Regions from separate parts of the Homo sapiens genome. Here regions 2 and 3 are each linked to region 1. The links come from fine-mapping of genetic effects on gene expression. A gene starts in region 1. Each other region holds a variant in brackets. All regions are shown on one strand. Distances are from middle to middle. Region 1 holds the start of ADD3 (adducin 3). Region 2 overlaps LOC105378479 (a long non-coding RNA gene). Region 3 overlaps ADD3 (adducin 3).

What was found.
Region 2: its variant is fine-mapped to the expression of ADD3 in whole blood (TOPMed, PIP above 0.99).
Region 3: its variant is fine-mapped to the expression of ADD3 in stomach (GTEx, PIP above 0.99). The same link has a PIP of 0.9 or more in aorta, atrial appendage, left ventricle, sigmoid colon, subcutaneous fat and tibial nerve.

What each region holds. Positions count from the first base shown.
Region 1 is chr10:110,006,535-110,009,294 of GRCh38, reverse strand. ADD3 (adducin 3) reads right to left here and starts at 1,311. Exons shown (of 15, transcript NM_016824.5): 1 at 996-1,311. ADD3-AS1 (ADD3 antisense RNA 1) reads left to right here and starts at 914. Exons shown (of 5, transcript NR_038943.1): 1 at 914-1,114. RefSeq lists silencers at 579-988, 1,299-1,728 and enhancers at 1,557-2,110, 2,111-2,666.
Region 2 is chr10:110,147,850-110,150,609 of GRCh38, reverse strand. LOC105378479 (a long non-coding RNA gene) reads left to right here. Exons shown (of 3, transcript NR_164121.1): 2 at 779-898; 3 at 2,424-2,760. Among named protein-coding and RNA genes, the nearest start is that of MXI1, 58 kb to the left of the region's middle. The variant A/G (reference allele first, on the strand shown) is at 1,096.
Region 3 is chr10:110,106,053-110,108,812 of GRCh38, reverse strand. All of the region lies in intron 2 of ADD3 (adducin 3), which reads right to left. Among named protein-coding and RNA genes, the nearest start is that of ADD3-AS1, 99 kb to the right of the region's middle. The variant T/C (reference allele first, on the strand shown) is at 1,495.

The DNA of each region.
Region 1 (2,760 bases):
AAACTTGCACGCACGTGTATGTAGCTAGTCCCATACCCCAGAATCTTATCAATTCCTTCCCCAAACTTGCATATAATCCTCCCTCAAAGCCTCTTGGCTAAGTTAAATTCCTTAACACTCTACCAGGTTAATTGCAACAGCACATGTGCCAAGGAAATTAGTGGTTTTCCTTGCGCTCCCATTTTCAACCGGCACCTACTTGCAATTAAATCTCTGCAACAAAAAAGTTCACCTGAAGCCGTTCTTGCCATTTTAAAAGAGGCCCAGATTATGCTACCTGTCTGTGGTCTTGCCTAAGCTATAATAGCCTACCTCCAAAGAGGCTGGACGTGCCCCAAACACCAGCACACCAGACCTGCTGCCAACTTCGCTTGTCACCCCTAGCAGGAAGCTCAACCTAACATGTATACGTTTGTAGGGGCGGTGTGTTTGTGTGTGTCTGTGTTGGGGGGTGGGGAAGCGGATTATAGGAGAAAGGTGACTGAACACTTTCAACTTGTAACAAAAAAAATTTTTTTTAAATGAGGAGAAAAACAACTAAAACCAACATTCGCTCCCTTTCCTCCACCTTTTCTAAGCGCAGGAACCTCTCACTCCCCTGGAGCGCACCTTCAGGGCTTAAGGTCCCCGGGGTCACCTAAGCTTCAGCCAGTAACTGATTTTGGTACTCCCCGCCTTCCTAGGGAAAACCAGCAGACGCGCGAAGCGTCGGGCCCACCCGGCGGCGCCGCAGGCCGTGCACCGCCACCCCCGGACCCTCCCCCGCAGGTACGCTCCCCTCTGGCCTGGCCGTGGTCCCCACTCCCGCCCCGGAAAAGGGTTCACCTGAGGCCGCAGGGACAGCCAATGAGAAGTCCCCTTGGCCCCGCCAGCCGCCGCTCCCTACCCCCGCGCGACCCCCAGTAGCGTCCCCAGTGCTAGCCCCCGCGCGGGTGCCCGCGTCCCGGCCCGGAAGAGAGGCGGGACGACGGCGCGTCCTCTCCCCGCAAGATTACCTCGCAGCGCGTAGCCGGCTTTGTGTTTCCCCTCCCTCCTTCTCGGCAGCCGCCCGGGCTGCAGCAGCCGCCGGATCCGCCGCTGCGGCCGCCTCTTAAGCGCCGCAGAGCCCCAGAGGGTAGGGCGGGAGAAGGGGAGGGGGCTTGAGGAGGGAGGGACCTGTACGCCGAGCCCTGTGCAGCAGGAAGCGGCGACACCTGGGATGCCGACGCCTCTGGCGCTTGCTCTGTGTTTTAAAAAATCTAATTTAAACCCCTCTTCTTTCCCTCCCGCCCCTCACACTGGCGACCGTTACGGGCTGGCGGCTCGCGCTCTGGCGGGACTAGCCGAGCGCCCCTCGAGCGTCCCTTGGTCCCGCCCCCTAACGCCCCGCCCCTAGGTCCCCAAGCGCCCCCCCCGGTCACGCCCCCAAGGTCCGCCCCTCGCAGCCCCCTACGCCTCTGGCCCCGCCTCTTGGGCTCCGAAGCCTCCCGGCCCCGCCTCCTCAAGACCTCGCCTCTGGCAGCCCCGAGCTCTCTCTGGCCCCGCCCCGAGCGCCCCTCGGGAGTCCTGGTCCCGCCCCCGCAGCCCCCTCCGCGCCCTCAAGCTCTAAGTCCGTGAAGCCGCAGCGGTGGGGGCCTGCAGGCCCGGCAGCCGGGAGGGCCTGGTTCGGGGCGGCTGCCTGGCGCCTTTTCAACGTCCTCTTCTGACTGTGCAGCTCGAATCCGCGGCGTCCCCGGAGGGCCAGAGGGGGAAACGACCCCGATAGAAACCCGACCGCGAAGGGGAGGAGGGGCGCCTCGGAAATGTCTCCCGCCCTAAATGAGCGAGCCCCCTACTCCTACTCCCGAGGCTGAGCCGCCGCTTTGAGTCAGCCTCGGCCGCCCACGCTGGCTGCTGGGGCTGTAGGAGGCCACTGCAAAGGTTCAACCTCCGCACGCCCCCCGTGGGGCCTGGACTTTGCTCTCAGCACAGCTGCCTTCGCGGGCGCCTAGTCCCCACAACCCCTGCTTCACCTCCACATAGGGGGAGGACAGGGGCTCTCGCTTCTGCTTCATTTGGACCCCTCGAGAGTCTTCACTCCCGCTTTGGCTCCCGGCCTCTGAACCTTATGAGAGCTCACTTCTTTGAGGCGAAAAGTCGAGGCATCGCCAAGAACCTTCAAAATGAATGCGGGGCCGGGCAAACTTTGCAACACGCAATTGCAGGGCTGTGGATCCATCCACAGGTGACACCGGGCCTCCCACCCCCCTCGCCCAGACATGTTTCTCATCCCAACCTATTCTTGAAATAGACCTCCCAGCGGTGCACACTTTTCTCTGCCACCCACGACTTCCACGTCCCTCCTGCACCAGTACACTTGCAAGCACACCCCTCCGAGCGCCATTCTAATGATTCATGGTCCCTTGGGCCAACCCCACCCTAACACACACAACAAACTTCGTTCCCCACCCTTATCCCCCTTCGTTTCCAAGGCACTGGCGACAATCCACTTCATTTCCTTTCCTCATCTGCAGACTCGTCCCCCTCAAATACCTCACGCCATCCGCCTCATCTTCATCCCCCCCCTCCTCCCTAAAAATGTGCTAATTAAAATGTAGTTTCCTCTTCCCACATATGAAGTGTGGAAAATGAATCTTGTCTTGACACAAACTGTGATGCATTTATCGTTTTCTCTCTCCACTGGACTAAGGCTGTAGAAATTTTAGTCTACCACCATCTCCCATTTGCTCAAAAAATCCAACCATGCCTTATTATTTTTAAATACTCTTAACGAATCGTGGG
Region 2 (2,760 bases), 140 kb before region 1:
CAGGAAAAATTCCAGTAGAATTACTGGCTCTAAAGCCAGCATGCAGGTCTGAGGGGAAGGCGGACAGCTGGCAGGGCAGCTAGTTTATAGGCTTGGTCCCCCTAGAGTCTCCCTTTATCCCAGTCAGTGGTGGCTCTGATCCATCCCATAAAGCCCCTACTCGGAGGGCGGCCTGCCCCACAGGTGCGCTGCTCCAGCCAGGGTGGGCTGAGACCTGGTCCTTCTATTTGAGGTAACAACTTGGTGTCCTGGCCTGCTGATACCCTCTCAATATCTCTTACTTCTTTTTCTAGAGAGGGGTTGAGCACAGAGAGAGGGGTGGAGGGCCAAGTAGGGTGGGGTGGGAGTGGCAATGGGCTTCTAACACACAACCACACCCAGAGAGAAAGGCCCTGCTGTTAACCAGATTGTCATCTTTGGCAACCAATGGATGCTAGAGGTCTCAATGCCTTCCTCCACCTCAGAGTGTTTGATCAGAGTCTTCTTTTTTAGAAAAAAAAATTTTTTTAATAGAGACGAGGTCTCGCTATGTTGAGCAGGCTGGTGGAAGTCCTGGCCTCAAGTGATCCACCCCCTTTGGCCTTCCAAAGTGCTGGAATAATAGGCATGAGCCACTGCGCCCAGCTATAGTATTCTTTCAACCACAGACAGTAGAGTTCCTACGAGGAATTCCAGGAAGCTGATGTTTTTCATCCCTTCCACCTTTATCAGAATGGATTTTAAGTCCCTTACAGTCTGGAGCGCTGGCTAACAGCTGTTGACCTGCTTCTTACTCCAGCTCTGGTTCCAACAGTAACACTGGCTCCTCAAACTTCCAACCCAAGGAACGGTTTCTGCCAAGAAAATGTGCCTTAGGAGATGAGACTACCAGTGGAGCAGAATTCCGGCAGTTCTCCAGGTATGAGCTCCCAGGAGAAGGGACAGTGTTGAGTAGAGAATCCAACAGAAAGTTTGTTTTTTGGAAGGACAGGACTGGCCGATGCTGAGAAGGGAGGGGAGTAGGAGAGGCGGGAACTCCCAGCACAGACCTCAGCCACTTGACCTGTCACCCCAAAGAGCTGGTCATGCCCCGGATCACGTTCCATCTCCCAGTGG[A/G]GAAAGGCAGCCAGCCACCCTTGGAGGAAAGCATCCATGTAGCCACCGATGGCGGGGAGAGCAGTGTGGGGAGTCTCCTCTATTTGGAAGAGGAGACATAGTTGGGTGGGTGGTTCCCTGGCCTTATCAGGCCTCTGCAGTCCAGCATGGAACTGGCAGAGATGGGCCATCCTATCTCCGCCCTGCTGGGCTTGGCTCAGTCCCCTTTAGACAGAGGGCTTTGCCCTCTCACCCCTGCACTCCGTGCCACCCTGCTTCATTGACCCCACTGGCCTCCAGACCGCAGCCAGCTGTAGTGGGAAGAGGAGTGGGCTGACTCTCAAAGTCAGGGGTGAGGACAGGCATGGCGCTGCCTGGGCTGGGCAAATACTGGCAATGGCAGAAAGCAGGAGAGGTGCTTTGAAGGGGAGTTAAGATCCAGAGCATTTAGAGGCAAATTAAACAGCTCTTTTAGAATTCACTCAGCTGGGGGTATTGATCACAATTCTCCCTGGTGGCAAAATGGACATGGCTTAGATAAGTCAAGGTAGCACATACTTGGGAATGCTTTCCATTTTCCACTGAGGTAGGTGATGGCACAGCTGTGGCTTCAGGCTATGTACCTGACATACTCTGACACTAGTGATGTGACCTCGGACAAGCCGTATCTCCACTTAGTCTCACTTTCCTCATCTGTAAAACTGAGAAAAAGTTTTCATGAAATTAAACCCAGGCCAGGCATGGTGGCTCACCGTTTAATTCCAGCACTGTGGGAAGCCAAGGTGGGTAGATCACTTGAGGTCAGGAGTTCGAGACCAGCCTGGCCAACATGGTGAAACCCTGACTCTACTAAAAATACAAAAATCAGCCGGGAGTGGTGGCACATGCCTGTAGTCCCAGTTACTCAGGAGGCTGAGACATGAGAATTGCTTGAACCCAGGAGGCAGAAGTTGCAGTGAGTCGAGATTGCACTGCTGCACTCCAGCCTGGAGGACAGAGTGAGACCCTGTCAAAAAAAAAAAAAATTAAACACAATAATGTATGTGAAGTACAGAGCCTAGGACACACAAGGTACTCAGTCATTGTTCCCTCCTTCTGAAAGCACCTTTCCATCATTTTCCCACTTGACTAATCTGATATTGAATAATTGATTATTATAACCCATGGTGGTTTTAAAACATGTTCACCGATTTTTTGACACTCTTTTCTTCAAAAGGTGGAAACTAGTGTCCCTCCCCTTCGATTTGGCTGAACTTAGTGACTCGCTTCTAATGATTAGAATGTGGCTGAAGTGCAAGTGTGTGTCACTGTGGTTTCTGCTTTGTTCTCCCTTGGATTGTCTGCCGCAGGGGCTGCCTGTCACGAGGGCACTCAAGCTGCCTGCAGAGAGGCCCATACGGGGAGCATCTAAGGTCCCGCCAACAGCTGGCACCAACTTGCCAACCATCCGGGAAGAAGACCCTCCAGCCCCAGTCAAGCTTGCAAATGGCTGTGGCTCTGGCTGATGTCTCAACTGCAACCTCTTGAAAGACTCCAAGCCAGAATGTTCCTGAATTTCTGACCCCCCAAGACTGTGAGATATATTAAATGTGTATTGTTATTTTAAATTTCTACGTTTTGATTTGTTACATAGCAATAGATAACTAGCATGTATCCTGTTGCCTTCCAAAACGGTTTTGAAACTGC
Region 3 (2,760 bases), 100 kb before region 1:
GAATTCTTCCAGTGCAAAAAAGGTTTAATATTTTGTCATGAACATTTATTACTCATTTTTACATGTTTCAAATGTTTCTCAAATATTGTTCAGATAATCACCTAAGTCATAAAACAGTAAGTGTAAAAATTACTAATATAAGACTAATATAAAAAATTACTAATTACTAATTTCAGCTGATTTTTTAAATTTATCAGTAAATTTATTGAGCTTTCATTAAAATATTAAGATAAAAATTTTATTTATCTTTGAGATGGGTAGTTAATCATATTTTTACTAAAGTTCAATGTTAATAATCCTTTATAGTTGATATATTTGAGTCTCACCACAAAGTCCTGAGATAGGCAATGCCTTGCTCGAGGTTATAAAGCTAATAAGTAAATGGAATAAAGATTCAAATATGGAACCCTCAACTGAGCACAAGTTCTTTTCCTAATTTTATTCAGACTTGGATTGTATCTCTGAAACCAAATACAACTAATAAGCTAGCAGGCATGTTGTGATCTGAAATGTTGAGTAAACCTCTTAGGCTAGATTAGAGCATTAGACTGCAATGGCAGATAAAGCAAAAATATATATATATATACTGGCAGATTATGGTGATCCTGGAATACCAGGCTAAGTACTTGCCCTCTTGTAGCTAAGAATTCATCAAAGCATAATGAGAAACTTGATTTCTAATCAGGGTGGTGTGGCCACATACTGGGCTTAAGTCAGATTAGCCAACAGTTCCCTGGAGTCTCCACTAGAGAAGAACTGGTTAGAAGATCAAACAACATATACACAAAACCATGGCATAAACTATGTCTTCTTTCTCAGATACAGAAGAGCATAGAAGAGGAGGTAGTGGTAGTTGTTAAATTTTGTGAAGATGAATAAACCAGAATGCCATCAGGGTAACAGATTCAAGACCTTAAAAAACCAAAATACAGTCTAAGGAATTAAAATCTTCAAGTGTTGCCACAAAAGCATAATGTACTTCAAATTAGCAATAAATATATAATTTCCAAAAAACAGTTGCCGACTACGTGCTGCGTGCTGTACTGCATGCTCTTATGTTATTTTATTTAATTGTCACAACCGTGTGAGGTATTTTCCCCATTTTACCAACAAGGAAACTGAAGCTCAAGTTAAACGAGCTTCGTAATGTCACATAGCTAGTAAGTGGTAGGCAAAGTAAAATGTGAACCCAGATCCAAAACAAACACTTTTATAAAAAATTGTGTAAACAAAATGGGCAATGATGAGAAAATGTACTGACTCCTAACTTAGGTCAAAATGGCTTGGTACTGCAAAATTTCCATAGTCTGCTGCTATGTAATTTTTTTTGCTTTATCTGCCATTACTACCTCATGCTTTAGCCTATGAGGTTCTTGCAGCATTCTCTGATCACAACTTGCACTTCTCTAGCCCTGCTCGATCTACTTCATCCAATGGAAGTATTGACTTCCACTGTTCTTCTTCCTAATGAATTCTTTCCTTTATTCAACACAT[T/C]ACAAATGCTACCTTCTCCTTGAAGTCACCTAATCATCCAAGTTAGGAGGGATCTCTGTATTTCTTCTCTTCTACACTTCACTGTGAACTTTCCCTATACTATACTTAGGGTACCTAGTGTATGACTGTGATTGTTTAACTATTTTCCTGCTCTACTATACCATATTATCTGAGGACTGAAACTGTGTCTTTCACATTTCTAGATTCTCCCTGAGTGTGTAGTTCAGTGCTCAATTAATACTAAGTTAAGAGTTTCTTTTCATTTTCCTAGATATAAAGAAAGTGAAGAATCTGATCTCAATCTTGACCCAGTTAACGTAGCAAATATCCATTTCATAGGTTATTAGCTAGAAAACAGTCTTATCAGTCTATTACTTGAATGAGAAATCCCTGCTGTCTAATTAGGCCTACCCATAATCTACTAGGTAAGATTTATTTTCTTTAAATAAGAAATTCATCCTCATTGAATGTTATAAACTTTTAAAAAGCCATTTAATTCTTCAACTCAAACAAAATCCTACTTGAAAACTTAATTTGCCCCCAGAACATTATAGTTTGAACAGCTCTTCAAACATAGGTCCAAAAAGTATGGTAAAAAAATCACTAGGTGAAAAGCAAAATGTTTAAGTTAGAGACAGGGTGCCTTAAAAGCCTTATCTGAATCTCACACCCTTTTATTTTATATATCTATCAATGTCGAGGGAGTGAGGCTATAAACTTTGAATTCATAAAGTATGGACATAAATGGACTTCTAAAAATGTCAAATATTCAGAGATGTGAGATTCATGTAGGCTAAGAATATACTTTAAGTACTCACATATTCCGGAATACTATAAACCAAAAGTAGAATTCACTTGAGGCATCACATTTTAAAACTCTGTATCCAAGGTCAGAACTTTCAGGAGAAAGTGGCAGGAGATAAAATACTTAAGTCACAGAAAAGAGAACCAATTTGATTTTTTAAAAAAACCTGACCTGATAAAATTATTTCAATTAATGCTTAAAAAAAAAAAACTCCATGTTGGCTCATTTATCAGTAATGTCTAACTTACACTCAGATAATAACACTGATAAATATAGGAGACATCAGAGATGAATTTTAAATATCCACATCTGGATGTTTTACCTCAAAATTACTAGAGAGGAAAATTGGGGCAAAAAGTTAAAAAAAAAAAAAAGATTACAGACTTGCTGCTCCCAAGGCACCCTATAATTATGTTATTAGAGCTCTCCTAAAGCAGGATTAGGAGCATAACAAACTTACT